Linked DNA regions of Homo sapiens. The protein of the gene in region 1 purifies or fractionates together with the protein of each later gene. This does not show direct contact. Each region holds a gene or a part of one and is shown on either strand. Other genes may lie near its edges.

Evidence for each region.
Region 2: the proteins of STK3 (region 1) and MAP1B purify together in Homo sapiens (affinity purification with mass spectrometry; 4 studies listed by BioGRID and IntAct, with this or other methods). This does not show direct contact.

The regions. Positions count from the first base shown.
Region 1 is NC_000008.11:98,815,440-98,823,150, reverse strand, and holds part of STK3 (serine/threonine-protein kinase 3), read left to right. Parts: intron 1-7,711. UniProt on the Homo sapiens protein: Stress-activated, pro-apoptotic kinase which, following caspase-cleavage, enters the nucleus and induces chromatin condensation followed by internucleosomal DNA fragmentation.
Region 2 is NC_000005.10:72,110,104-72,117,814, forward strand, and holds part of MAP1B (microtubule-associated protein 1B), read left to right. Parts: exon of another isoform or gene 1-3,384; intron 3,385-5,594; coding exon 5,595-5,696; intron 5,697-7,711. UniProt on the Homo sapiens protein: Facilitates tyrosination of alpha-tubulin in neuronal microtubules. Phosphorylated MAP1B is required for proper microtubule dynamics and plays a role in the cytoskeletal changes that accompany neuronal differentiation and neurite extension.

The DNA.
Region 1 (7,711 bases):
GTTGGTGGATTAATTTTTTCTGTTTTCTTTCTCAAGAGTACTACCCCATAAAACCCATTCCATGGTTTTATGACCCTCACTTTTGAATTGCAGCAGTACCTTCTAGCTGGACGCTTTAGTCCAGTGGTTTTCAAAACTATTTTGTTTTGTTTTGAGATGGAGGGGTACAATCTCGGCTCACTGCAACCTCTGGCATCCTGATTCAAGCGATTCTCGTCCCTCAGCCTCCTGAGAGGCTGGGATTACAGGCGGGCGCCACCACGCCCAGCTCATTTTTGTGTTTTAGTAGAGACAACGTTTCGCCATGTTGGCCAGGCTGGTCTCCAACTCCAGACCTCAGATGATCCACCTGCCTCGGCCACCTAAAGTGCTGGGATTACAGGCATGAACCACCGTGCCTGGCCCCCGTTGTTCTTTATTTATGTTATAGGCTGTGGGTACTCCCAGCTTTACCTTTATTCACATTTTTCCTTTAGAAAAGTTTGTGTTACTTTTTGCCTGAAGAATAATCTATGTTTTATTCTTCCATCAAAGCCTACCTCATCAAGTATGTTTTCTGAGTACTTTCTAGCCTGAGATATTTCACTGAATTCCTAATGTGATATACATTTGATTATATACCATCTTTTTATTCTATTTTATTACAAAATTTTAGATATCCAGAAGATAATGAGGGCCTACTGCGATGGTGCACGCCTTGTAATCTCAGCACTTTGTGGGGCTGAGGTGGGAGGATTGCTTGAGCCCAGCAGTGGGAGGTTTCAGTGAGCTATGATTGTGCCACTGCACTCTATCCTGGATGACAAAGTGAGACCCTGTCTCAAAGAAACAAAAATAAAAATAAAAACAAAACAAAAAGAAAAAAGAACAGAGCCTAATTTAATAGATACTTAGGTATTACCATCCAGTTTAAGAAATATTAATAAAAATATTACCAATACATTTGAAGCCACCATGTGTATTTCTTCTCAATTACACTCCCTTCCCATCCCCCAAAAGGTAATCACTGACATGAATTGGATATTTGTCCTTCCCATACATGCCTTTATATTTTTAGTATGTTACATATATATGTGTGTGTGTATGTGTGTGTGTGTATGTATGTGTGTGTATATATATATGTATGTATGTACACATATCAACACATAATGTTAGGCATGGGTATTAGGCCTGGCCTTGTCACTGACTTTGAAATTTGCTTCTTTGGGCATCTTCTTCTCCTCTGGGAGTTGGAGATTCCAGTGTGTAGCCCAGTTCAAGAATCATGACTCAGAGACCTAGATGATTTTTAAGGCACCTCTCACCCTCATATTCATTGATTTGGTCTCCTTAACAAGGTTTGTGTTAAACATAGGCAATAGATGTGGTCACCCATGTCACCAACTTGAGGTACCAGAGTAGTTTTTAGATTCCTTAGATTTCGTTAACATACTTGTCACTGAGGTCTTCAGAAGTCCTTTTTTTTCTTTTTAACTTTTTTTTTTTTTTTGAGATTGGGTCTTACTCTATCGCCCTGGCTGGAGTGCAGTGGCACAATCATGGCTCACTGCAGCCTTGACCTCCCTGTGCTCAGGTGATCCTCTCACCTCAGCCTCCCTGATTAGCTGGGACCACAAGCACGCACCACCATACCTAATTTTTTTTTTTTTTAATTTGTAGAGATGAGGTCTTGCCATGTTGCCCAAGCTGGCCAAAGTCGTTATTAAAAGGATTTCCCTCTGGGAAGGGAAATTCATTAAATCATAGATCCCCAACCATTTTGGCACCAGGGACCAGTCTCGTGGGAAACAATTTTTGCACAGATGGTTTGGTTGGGGGCGAAATGGTTTCAGGATGAAACTTCCACCTCAGATCATCAGGCAATAGTTAGATTATCATAAGGAGCGTGCAACCTAGATTCCTTGCATGCACAGCACAATAGGGTTCGCACTCCTATGAGAATCTAATGCTACTGATGATCTGACAGGAGCTGGAGCCCAGAGCAAGGGCGGTAATGCTCGCGTATAGCTCACCTCCTGCTGTGTTGCCTGGTTCCTAACAGGCCATGGACCAGTACTGGTCCACTGTATTGTGCTGTAAAGGAGTTGGGGACTCCTTTATTAAATGATCATTAATTAGCATTTTGGTTAGATGGAATTTGTTGGATTTATTTTATTATTTTATTATTTTTTTTGAGGTGGAATCTTGCTCTGTTGCCCAGGCTGGAGTGCAGTGGCACAATCTCGGCTCACTGCGAGCTCCGCCTCCCAGGTTCACGCCATTATCCTGCCTCACCCTCCTGAGTAGCTGGGACTGCAGGCGCCTGCCACCACACCAGGTTAACTTTTTTGTATTTTTAGTAGAGATGGGGTTTTACCGTGTTAGCCAGGATGGTCTCGATCTCATGACCTCGTGATCCACCCGCCTTGGCCTCCCAAAGTGCTGGGATTACAGGCTTGAGTTACCGCGCAGCCGAATTTATTGGATTTTTTATAGGGGAACTGCTAGCTGAGAGAAAAATGACCACATAATAGTCCAGCTTTGATAGGTAGAAAGGTAAATGACCAGAAAACATGGGCTCTTCACCAGGTGGAACCTTCATAGAAGGGAGGTGGGTCTCTATGATAGACAGGTGGGCAGCATGAAAATATATTTAATACTTGTCAAAGAGAGGACAGAATATCACTGCTGGAGTGAGACACTTTACCAGATAGGCTTGTTCCTCAAATAGGTTATAGTGTTAGTAGTTATTTAAAATGTGTAATTCGTTGATTAAGGTATGGTTGGAGGGCAGGTTAGCATTGAACAATGAAAACACTAAAAGGATAGTAAAAGAATAAGCTATTGAAGCATACTTACTCTCAAGACAGGTGAGTTCTTTAATTTAAGCTATAGTTGGATTCTGTGGCAATTTTTTATTATTATTTTTAATAGTGTGAAAGGGTAGTTTGGGGGAAATAAAATTGAAGGTTGAAGTCATATGTTAGGGGTCCTTCACGCAAATGGAAAGCTAGAAAACACTAATTTCATAAGGGCAAATGAGTGTTTGGATGGATTACCCATCAGAAAACAGATTATTATGGAAAGAAAAAGCAAAGGGATCGGGTTGAGAATATAGAGGAGTTAAGCAGAAAGTACTCATGAATTCTTCAGCATGAAGAGCCCACATCAACTTGTAGCATCTGTAGCCCGGATCTCAGGCCAGGAATTAGGAATGGAGAGAGATAGCAGATAACTCTCAGCGCTTATGAATGGAAGTGGGTGAGAGAAAGCAACACACCAGTTAAGTAGATAGTAGGAATATCACAAAGATATTATTGCAGGGAGAAGAGGGGTGGATGTCATTTTATGTGTATATTTCTAATTTATGTTTCCTTGGAATGTTGGAAAGTAAAATTGTGTGTATATCAGAGAGATTGACTAAATAGAGAGCTGGAGTTGTCTTTGAGAAGATGAACTCTAAGAACTCTTAAAAAAACCCCAGCAGACTCAGAGGAAGGCCCTAGGGAAAATTTCCAATTCTAGAGGTAGGCAAGTGGACAAAATATTCAAAGTAGTTAGTCCAAGGGGAAAAGAACCAACCAAACAGGAGCATCTCTGAATTAACAACTTGGTCCCTAAAGCATCTGCTGTCTTCCCTTTGGCTTTTCTTGGTTAATTTAGGGTGGCATTAACTTGATTAGGATTGCTTTAGGCCGTGCTGATGGGAATAGTCAGTTGGCTCTTCCTTCTTGGAGAGAGGGAGTGCGACAATAAAATTTGCAATACTTCCGGTAAACAAACTTCTGTTGCATGTCAACTAGAGAAACTCAGTCTTTAGTTGACTCTAGGAACACTTCAGGCCATCATATATTACTGGCTTTCAACATTTAAAAAAAAAAATTCATTGATACTGAGACTCAGTACAGACCCACACATTTACATAAATGGGAGGTAGAGGTGGGACAATTGCTTGAGCTCAGGAGATTGAGGCTGCAATGAGCCATGATTGTGTGGATGCATTCCATCCTGGGCAACAGAGCAAGACCCTGTCTCAAAAACGTTCATTGGGCTGGGCACGGTGGCTCACGCCTGTAATCCCAGCACTTTGGGAGGCTGAGGTGGGCAGATCATGAGGTCAGGAGATCGAGACCATCCTGGCTAACATGGTGAAACCCTGTCTCTACTAAACAAAATACAAAAAATTAGCCGGGCATGGTGGCGGGCATCTGTAGTCCCAGCTACTTGGGAGGCTGAGGCAGGAGAATCGTGTGAACTTGGGAGGCGGAGCTTGCAGTGAGCCGAGATTGCGCCACCGAACTCCAGCCTGGGCGACAGAGACTCCGTCTCAAAAAAACAACAAAAAAAATTCATTGTTTGCATACATACCGTGAATATCGACATGAAGATTACCTTGAATTTCTGAAAGTACATCATAGGAGTATATCTTGAAAAATGACTCATAGCAAAATGAGAATTACAAAGTGTTAACATTAATGATAATTAGTTTAGGTAGTATTATTTTGAGTTCTGAATTAGTTTATAGATTTATATAATACCAGACATCTTAGTATAGAGGTGAATTGAGTAAATTTTTCAGATGTTTCTGCTATCTTGATACACACACACACACACACACACACACACACACACATTTATAATTTATAATTGGCAGCTAATTTTCTTGACTCTGTTTATGGAACCAAGCCACATAGTCTCCTGTTCTCTGTTGTGTTGCTCTGTTCTTTCTGAAAACTGGCTTTCTTTACTTACTGATCACTACTCATGGCAAAATTGGCATTCGGCCTTTACTTCATTCATTTCCTCATTTATTCATACATTCAGTAATTATTAATTGTTTTCCACATTCCAGATGCTCATTGGTGAATGAAACAGGTGGGTTCTTTGCCCTCATATAACATACACTCTTGTTGTAGCTTGAGCTATGAAAGATATAAGTAGTGTGTAGAGAAAGATGGTGAAACCTGCTTAATAGGGCAGTTGGCAGAGGCTTCTCTGAGAAGGTGATATTTAAGTTGTAACCTGACATTGAGAAGTTATCCATGTGAGTAGCAAGGGAAAAGTATTCCAGGCAGGGGGGAAAGCTATGAGAAGGCCTGGAGGTGGGAAAGAGCTTAATGTGTGGGAGGAATTGAAATGACACCAGTGTGCCTGGATTGGAGAAGAGGACAGTGGCTAGAGATGAGCTCAGAGAGATGGGCACGGATTCAATGATGCCGGCCATGGAAAGGAATTTGGATTTAAGTCAGAGCTCTGTGTGCTGTCATTAAAGGTTTTTAAGCAGTTTATGTTTTTAAAACATCCTTTTGGCTGCTTTGGGTAGAGTAGATTGTAGAGGGTTAAGAATAAAAGAGAAACAAGTTAGGAAACTATTTGAATAGTTTGTGATTTGAGATGGTAGAGTCAGTGGAGATAGAAGTTGAGAGATTTGCGATATTTTGGAGTTATAAATGAAGGACTTGCTGATAGACTAGATGTGGGGAATGAGGGGAAAAAAAGAATCAATCCTGGCTCCTATGTTTTGAATTGAAACAACTTGGGGAATGAGGAAAGACCGGGAGAACAGGTTTGGATATCTATAGTCTCTTTCTTGGAATTTCATAATCCCAAGAAAGTGAATCTGATTGGCCTAAAATGTGATATTAAGTGGTTCCTTTAGAAGAGGAAGTGGGTAGGGAGGAAATGATGCACACTGATTTCTATTTTTTTTTTTTTTTTGAGATGGAGTCTTGCTCTGTCGCCCAGGCTGGAATGCAATGGTGCAATCTTGGCTCACTGCAACCTCCGCCTTATAGGTTCAAGCAATTCTCCTGCCTCAGCCTCCCAAGCCGCTGGGACTACGGGCGTGTGCCACCACACCCAGCTAATTTTTGTATTTTTAGTAGAGATGGGGTTTCACCATATTGGCCTGTCTGGTCTCGAACTACTGACCTCAGGTGATCCACCCACCTCGGCTTCCCAAAGTGCTGGGATTAAAGGCATGAGCCGCCATGCCCGGCCTGATTTCTATTTTTATCCTATTGTTTTCACTCAGTTAGAGTAGAGAATGGAAAACATATCTAGCCGTTTTTAGGTGTTGACATGTTCAGGTGTGCTGGTAACCTGCTATTTTAAAAAAAATCTTTTTATTGCAAAATAAAACATTAGTACAGAACACATGTATGGCTTGGTGAATTATTATAAGGCAGATACCTTTGTAATCACCCCTCAGGTTGAGAAATAGATCACAGTGGCCTTTCCCTATAAGTAATCATTTTCCTGACTTGTGTAGTAATAACCCAAATGTGCATTGCTAGATACTGTAGGTTAGTCTTGATGATTAAGAAATAGTAAGTTTTGGCCAGACACGGTGGCTCACACCTGTAATCCCAGCACTGTGGGAGGCCGAGGTGGGTAGATCACCTGAGGTCAGGAGATCAAGACCAGCCTGACCAACATGGCAAAACCCCATCTCTACTAAAAATACAAAAATTAGCTAGGCATGGTGGCAGGCACCTGTAATCCCAGCTACTCGGGAGGCTGAGGCAGGAGAATCCCTTGAACCCAGGAGGTGGAGGTTGCAGTGAGCTGAGATTGCACCATTGCACTCTAGCCTGGGCAACAAGAGGGAAACACTGTCTCTAGGTTGTGTTTTGTTTGTTTGTTTGTTTGTTTGTTTTTTGAGACAGGATCTTGCCCTGTCACTGAGGCTGGAGTGCAGTAGTGCAATCTCAGCTCACTACAGCCTGACCCTCCTGGGCTCAAGGGATCCTCCTGCCTCAGCCTTCTGAGGAGCTGGGACTATAGGCATTGGCCACCATGCCCAGGTAATTTGTGTATTTGTAGACATGGGGTCTTGCCATGTTGCTTAGGCTGGTCTTGAACTCCTGGGCTCAAGTGGTCTTGCCTTGGCCTCCCCAAGTGTTGGGATTATAGGCATGAGCTACAGCACCCAGCCCAAAAAGCAGTTTTGATATGAGTTGTCACTTTTAATCTTTAGTTTAGTCCTCCATCCTTTTCCTTTTCCTGTTGGAGAACCCAGGTTGTTTGTACTAGTTTCCCAGAGTTGGATTTTGCTGATTGCTTAATATAGGTCAGTTCAACATGTTCCTTTGTCTTCTGTATTTTCTGCAAACGTGCAGCTGGATCCAGAGATGGAGCAGACTCAAGTTCGATCCCTTAGGCATTGTGATATATATATATATATAGATGGGGTTTGGCAAGACCATGGGAATATCATAATGTCTAATTGTCTTTCTTTTTTGTGATGTTAGCGGCTGTGGATGGTTAGTGGGTGTTGCAATATAATGAAATTCTAAATACATCATTTTGCTTTCATTTATTAATTGGAATGTTTTTATAAAAAGTAACTTCCCCTCATCTTCTGTTTAGTTACCCAGTGGTACTGTTGATAAAGGAAAGACAGGATAAATGTTTGATTCTTTCCTTTTATTTACAAGTTTTCAAGATAACGAATTAGTTCCCTGTCTTTCTCCAAAGGTGGCCATTTTTTTTTCTTTTAAATGCCATTATGAGAAGATGGATTTAAACATACTTGATGGATTTAATCCATTGGAATCACTTTCACTGAAGCGCAAATTGTCTCACCTTTGGTTAGTGGGAGTCTCTTCAGGAGATAACATGACCCTAGTGGTTTTTGATAGTTTCCTTGTTGTCTGCTGTGATATTTGGGGCCCATCTTGTATACTTCTTGTCCTAGATCTGGAATCATCCATTTCTCCAAAAAGCCGTG
Region 2 (7,711 bases), on another chromosome or scaffold:
AGAGGAAAGGGCACAAATCAAAGATGAGCAGCTCAACGAATTTTCACAAAACGGACACGCCTGGGTTACCCAGATCAAGAAACAGACATTACTGGAACCCCAGAAGCCCCCTTGTGTTCCCTTTGCAATAGACATCATGGCTTCCTGATTTTTTAATTCCCTAATTTGGTCAGGTTTTTGCATGGAACTCCGAAATGACTGTATTGATCCCATTAAGAATCAACCAAGTGAGTGAGCAGAGCCGTTTCTTTACACACCGTAGCAGATGCTGCTTTTCCTCTGAAGATGGCTCTCCTGGGTTCTGGGGTCTTGGCTGCAGCTCAAGATGCAGGCCCTTCCAGCGCTAAGTGAAAATCCTGCTCCCATAGCTTTTCAGACAGTCTGAGATGACTTAGCAACAGAGCAGGCTGGTCCTGTTTTCCTGTGCACGACAAGCTGCTGCTTCAGCCGCCAGGTCTCAGCTGGGCCTCCTCCAGAGGCCACTGCTGTTGTTGCTTGGTGCCTTTGGGCCTTGTTGTGTGAAGCAAGATGGAGCTGCTCCAGGGGGGCCAGCTCTGATGATTGTGTGTTGCAGGCTGGGAAGGCAGTTCCGCATCTGTTACTCTTTCTTCCTATTTCCCCTCCTGCCTTAACTGAGATTCTGGGTTTGGAGACCCTGGCGACTTGGATTCTTGCCATCCGATTACTGAGGGCTCTCTGGGAAGCCTAGAAAATAATCTATAAATCTGTAGAGACATGGTGGTAATGCAGTAAATCAACAGGCCTGGAACGTCCCAATGTGGATGCTTCGTAAATGCCTCTTGAAACCAGGGAAGAGAGATGGTCCCTCTTGCTTTCTCAACTATATTCGGAAAGCATAATGAAAGCTTTGGACATGTCTCCTCCAGAGTTTGGAACAATAGTGTTTCCTCGGACTAGGCTAGCTTCATTTATTTAGTTATGCAGGACTTTATTCCAAATCGTTTTCGCTACCACCAACTACTACTCTTTGGCACCTCCTTTTTCTCCTCCCTAATTAGCCCCCAGCATGGATTTAGCTAGTGGTTCTCATTTTCAGCAAAACCCTGCTTCTTGGTTTTATTTTAATACATAGAGGACATACATCCGTGTCTTGCAAACTGAATTCTAGAGCCTTGTGAACGTTTTCATTGTTTCATTTTTTTTTTAAGGAACTAAAACATATAAAGAATATTAAGTGTCTGTTGGATGTTTTCAATTACCGTTAGATTATAACTTTTCCTTTAGTTAACACTGGGAATCAGCAAGATTTGTTGGTGAAAAGATAGATGAATGTAACATCTACTGCTCTGCATTTTTAGATAAAAGTTTAGCTGATTACATTGTTACATTCTGATGTCACTTAACTGAATGTCCTTCAGTCTAAGATGGTAAGAGAATTTAAAACCCAGGAAAGATTTGGGGTTTAGTTTTCCTTTTCTTTTAACAGGGGAAATAAGAAACCAATACCATATGTGGTGAGAATTAAATGTTAGAGAGTCTTAAATTTACTATATTTGCCTATACTTTTCAAAGTCGAAGACAGATGGATTTCTGCTTGCACTGCTTAATTGGTATTATCTACGACAGCTCTGTGATCCATGCTGAAACACAAGGCAGTCCCCAAATTTAAGGTCATTAAATTGTTCACCTTCTCTAAGGGCTTACTTTAAAAAAATAAGTTATAACTTTTTAGACAAGCAAATAATTATGTCACTTCTCATTTGCTTGTGTTGTAAGATGTTATCTCAGACCTAAATTATTTATTATCAATGCTTTGAAACTATGAGCTCTGTATGTAAGATATTATCGTCATTACATACATATGTTATGAACATCAAGTTGCTGGCTTTAAAAAAAGAAAAAAAGCAAATTAAAGATGAGTTCAAGGGAAAAAATAAGAATTTTTTCCTCTGAGAAATAAAGCATTCCTAAATGTAGCATTTCCTTTAGTTCATTTATTTAGTTTATGATTTCAATCTGATTTCAGACCACTTTTTAGCATAGTTTTACAAATATAATCTTATGATTCTAGGTTAATGATTTAGGTACTTGGAAAAAATATCCAAAAGCCTGTTTTTCAGAGGGAGCAACTAAAGCCCATAAAGGAAAATCAACTTGCCAAAGGCCCAAATAACTGTCAGATAGAACCCATGTGCCATCAACATACAATGCATGGTCATTTCATTTTGCTTTCTTCAATCCACTGTCACCTTTAGAAATATGAATTTTAGCTTTTAAATGGGAGGTGCTTTTTTAAATTGTTGGTTTCATTAAACAACCCTGCAAAATGCTTACATGATTGGAAAACTTGGAACAATCTAGCCTGTACACACCAAGAGTACCTGACTTCTCCTCATTTTTCACCCTGACTTGTTCTTTAATGACCCCTCCCTGCCTCCCTGCCCCATAACCTATTCTTTTCTCCTTTTCTCATCTGTGTATATCATGTGCATGTCAGCCTCCCTTGTGTGCACTGCTACCACCTGGGGTCAGAGAACTGAGAAGGAAAGATCTTTTGTTGCTCCCTGGTCCCAAGGAGCTCACTTTCAGGGCTGGGCAATAGCCACAGAGCAGGCCCAGATTGTTCTCAGAGATGACGGATGCCTTTTGGCTCCAGACATTGAAAGAATGGGGTTCACTGCCTCCAACTGCCTGGAGTTATTCTGCCCCCACCTGGGTAAGCCCAGAAGGGGTACAGTCTTAGAATGCTGGGGAAACAAAGCCTCCAGGAAGAGCTTGACTTGGTGTATATTGGGGTGAAAATTAGAAAGAGGGCTTCCCTGCTCCCCAACAGAGACCAGGATGACTTGCTTCTGAAAGCCTCTTTAGAACCTCTTCACCAACACCCCAGGATGCCCTCCAGCCAGATTCAGAGAGGGGAGAATATGGGAAGGGCCAAAGAGATATTTTTCTGTCCTGTAAACTTTAGAGGGCTCACTGTTGGCTCCTTGTTAGGCACAAAGGGGAACTACATAAACCTACTAAATGCAATATGAACCTTCATTAACAACTACTCTTTGCCTTTACCAATATTATCCAGCAGGAGATACAAAGTAATTACAAATTATTTTATTTCTAAAATTGGTATGGAAAGTGGCCTGATTCCAAAATTTTCCTTTCCAACTAAAATAGCTGGCAAATCCAACATAACCTTTATTTTATAAGTGGTAGTAGTGGTTGTGCATTGCTAAGAAACAATTTGGGTGGAAATTGCTCTCTTGAAAAAAGAACCCTACATTTTTAGTTTCATTGGGAGTGTAAAAATGAGAAATATTTTTATCAGCCGTTTACTAGTATAATTTAGAAATTACTAAGTGGATTTATCATTTAGTACTTTTTCTATTGCTAAATTACAAATATGTCAAAAATAAAATATGTATGAAAATATAAAGCAAACATTTAATTGTGTGTGCCATGACAAGTTAACTGAAGCCAAGGGAAAATGGCAAGTAACAATGTAAGAGCAAGTCTGCAGATAACCCTGGATGAAGTCATTCAAATAATGTACCAATTTAGACATTACTTAGAACAAAGACAGAAAAATTGTATGAATTTAATTTAAATGCATATGTCTCATTATTAACTTATTGACCCAGCTTGACAGGGTAGAAGACAAAGTAGAGCTCAGACCTGGAACAAGGAGAATTCAGTCAACAATACCAATTAAGCAGCTCAGACAGGAACTCGATTTTTTTGCACTAGACTAGTATATAGTGTATACATTGAAGTAAAATATTCTAATGAATTCAGACCTCTCAACCTGTCAAGCTCTCTGTGAAACAAAAAGAACCCATTTATCATTTCTGCACTAAAAAGATCTGCGAAATCTCAACATGCCTTTCTTGTTAAAATTCAAATACTCCATTAGCACAAATGCAAACTGAGGCTATTAATGTTTCCAGGAAGAGCCATAAAATTCTCCCTTATAATTTGACCTTTCCTTAAGCACGTTAACTCTTCCACATCTGAATTCTTCCCATTGATCATATGAGAAATTTCTGCCTGTATTTAGTGGACACACATCTATTTGAAAATATTCCTCCTGGTTGAAAAGGTCTGTGGTGTGTAATCTAAAGATATTTTAGATGTGCAGTGAACTGAGTTTCCAGAATCTTTTTTTTTTGTAATGTCTATGTATAATCCACCTTGATTCTTTACAGGATAGGAAGACTGAATACAATATAACCAAGGGTAAATACAAATATGCCTTAAGGATCCAGTGTGTATTTAAGTAACACACTGCTATTTATTCCTTCAAGTCTGTATACATGACTAATGTCCAACAAAAATGATTACATGACTGGGTGTTAATTTAGAGATAGTTCACCTGCTGTGTTATACCTAGAGGTTCAAGCCCTTACCTTTAGGAGGTATGCAATAAATGTCTGTTGTTCTAGAGATTTGTTCCTGGCAATTGAGAATGCTGTATACAAAGGTACAATGATGGATACCACACACTGGCTCCACCATGAGCAACCTATTAGGAAAAATGTAATATATAATATGTAAACATGTAAAACACACACACACACCAGAGTTCTGGGGTTCCCCAACTTTCCCTGGCTTACTCTCCAGACCTCCCTTCTATGATGCTCTCTGGGGTTCCCTCTGGGCCATCCCCTTTGGGAGGGCAGGAGAAAGAGGACAGTGGGAGGAGGAAGGAAGAGGCTAGAGAGTAGGGCATGAGCACAGGAAGCTGCCCTCATCCCGCCTCTTGCCCTCCTGTTCCTCTCACCCTGGATATTCCTTTCAGCCTAGGGAAAGGAAGTCTGATAGGACTTCCTTTCCGTTCAGCCTAGGGTAGGAATAGCTGATTCATGTCCCCAACTCCATAAATGTTTTATAAAGTATAAAAAGTTGCCATTTTTCTTTGCCTCTGGATAAGAAAATTGAATACAATGAACAATTGTGAATAAAAGAGCTGCCTGCCAAGCTACTCAGGTAACAGAAAAGTGCCTGGAAGGACAGACAGGCCAAGTCTTGAAGATTGAGTGGATCCACTCTGTTTATCAAAGATCACATAAATCTTGGATTGATATCCAGGGCTCGATAAACCAAAGTCAAAAACGGGATTGGTAAAGGAAAGAAATTACACATGTATACTACCAGAACATCATTTTAGAAACAAAGGCCCGTGCTTGAATGGCAGCCCCCGTGTATTTTCTTTGCCTTTATTCTACATTTTCTTGCCACCTACAAGTGGAGTTAGTCTGTCTACAAGCTAGAGTTAGTCTGTTGGCCTCTTAGCTTCTTAAGAACTAACATCTTCCTGCCCTTTCTAGTCCCTCCCTGGAGTACAGCCTGTCATTTTCCTAACAACTGTTTTCTTTGACTCTTCCAGAAGAGGTGCATTTACTTTTTATGAGGGGCAGAAGCTCAGTCCACACTGCTAATTATCCCTCCCTTGTGGCCTGGTGGAGAGACCTCCCTGGCCCTCCCATTTTGTGGGCATCCACTGCTAAGCCACCAAGCTCTTCAGAAAAGGAGTTCCCACATCCTCCCTGAAAGCCTGAGAAATATTACAGTGATGTTGTCCAAACCACTCTGAAATGACTAACTGGAAGTCTCTCAACTGTCTTTCTTTCCCTCCCTAGGAATCCGATCATGGGACACAAACCTGATTGAATGCAACTTGGACCAAGAACTCAAACTTTTTGTATCTCGACACTCTGCAAGATTCTCTCCTGAAGTCCCAGGTGAGGCTTCCGCTCAGTGTTGGTCAGCCTAGAATTCCAAAGGACAAGGAGCAAGCTAGAAAGCTTTGTCTGAGGCAGCAAAAAGACTCTCTTATTGCTAAAAGGATACTTTGTATTTGTTATTATCAACTAGGTTAGCCAGCAGCCACAGTTTAGGAAGTCACTCTAGGTTATCACTGTGTGGGTTATCTATTTTGTGGATTCTTAATGAGTTTTTAAGTTCTAGGGTTGTGTATGTGTATATATATACACACACACACATCAATGATCACACAAATTTTGAATTGATATCCAGGGCTTGAGAAAGAGAGAGAGAGAAAGAGAGAGAGATAGTATAGTGTGTGTATGTGTATCTCACTGTACTCTGAGCTCAAGGGACTACAAACTATTTAAATGTTAATCTTACTCAAATGAAATTCTGAATACAAATTGGATGCTCCTAGGATCCCAGAACTGTCTTCCTGCAAAAGAAAAAGGAAACATATACTGCATTTCAAAATGAAATATACATCATCATTTCATAATTGCATTATCACCCGCCATTGCATTACCACTTATCTTTCTTCGTGTGGGTAAAAGAATCTGATATTACAAACTTCTGTTAAAATAGCCTTTTTTTCAGAGATGAAAAAGAATATCAAAGAATAATTAAAGGTAAGGATGCAAAAATTTGTCATATGTGAAGATGTTCCCACTAACCAGCCACCTTCCTGGGGCTATGATCTGACCCATGCCTCTGGCGCTGGAGATGTATTCATACTGACCCATCTCGTCTTCTTCTTGTGAGCAATAACCTATATTCCTCCCATTTGGTCACATTTAGGAATTATGAGACAGTTTCTGGCCCATAAAGACTCCAAACCTGGAATATATTTCTCCAGACCTTTGCCATTGACCCATCAGAAACACTGTATTACATCTTATTTCTTGACCATCACTTGAATTTTACATAAGAGAAAGCTATTTTCTGCCCATATGCTTTTGTTATATGATTCCTAATTTTATTGGCATTGATATAACATCAGGAATGAGATTCAGCCTATTTTGACTGGTTAGGTCATATTCCATTAGTCGTGTATATACATTGATATTTGAAATCACTTTTATAGAATATCAGTGCCTTCGTGAATCACATTTGGCTGCAGTAATATGCCCATAGGACTGTCTCAGTTCTTCCTTTTGAGTTTAATATTAGAATAAAATCCCATACATTTCAGTTATTGAAATGCATTGTAGCTTTCAAGTATGGAATTGAGTAAATGTGCTAAGAAAAGCTTAGCAAGAAATGGTTTATTAAAAGTTAACTTCCTGCAAAGCCACATGAAAAATCAGTTTTTAAGTAACTTTGCTTTGAGAAAAAAGGAATCCAGAGACTGTCAGACAGCATATGATTTGCTGAAGGAAAGGTACAGTATAAGGTTGTTTCTCTTGTTGTTATTTTATTGTATTTTTGTCTTGCGATATCTCCGTATCTTTTAAAACCATCTCACAAAAAAAATGAGGGAAGTGCTGTTTTCCAAAAAGTATGATTATTTCAAAATGTAAAAACTACAAGCTTTTATTTTTTCTCTGTAGGTTGTTCTGGCTTTTTTACTATGATTGTTTGTAAGACTTCTTTTTTTGTGTGTACAAGTCATGTGGTTCTCATTGTGTTCATTCATATTTGGACTGACTTTATAGAGTGACAACTGCATATTGCATAATGAAAGGCTGCAAGCATTGCTGAAGAATTAACCATTTCTAGACCCAAGACCTAGTATTGCTCCTGTGGAGTAGGAAGATCAAGTTCCCCCAAACTGTCACTTTAGCCTAATGTACCCCATTCTCCTCTCCTTTCTCCTGCTATCACCTTCAGTAAGGATTAGTTACCTACCTAGTTGTATAGTGTTATGCTAGAGGCTGTGTTTGGAGATTGGCCTTTGGACACACAGCATCTTTACTATTCTTGCCAATGCTAGAAAGGACTGATATTACGACTTTCCCTGTCAAGCCTATGAGTACGCTTTACAGGCCAA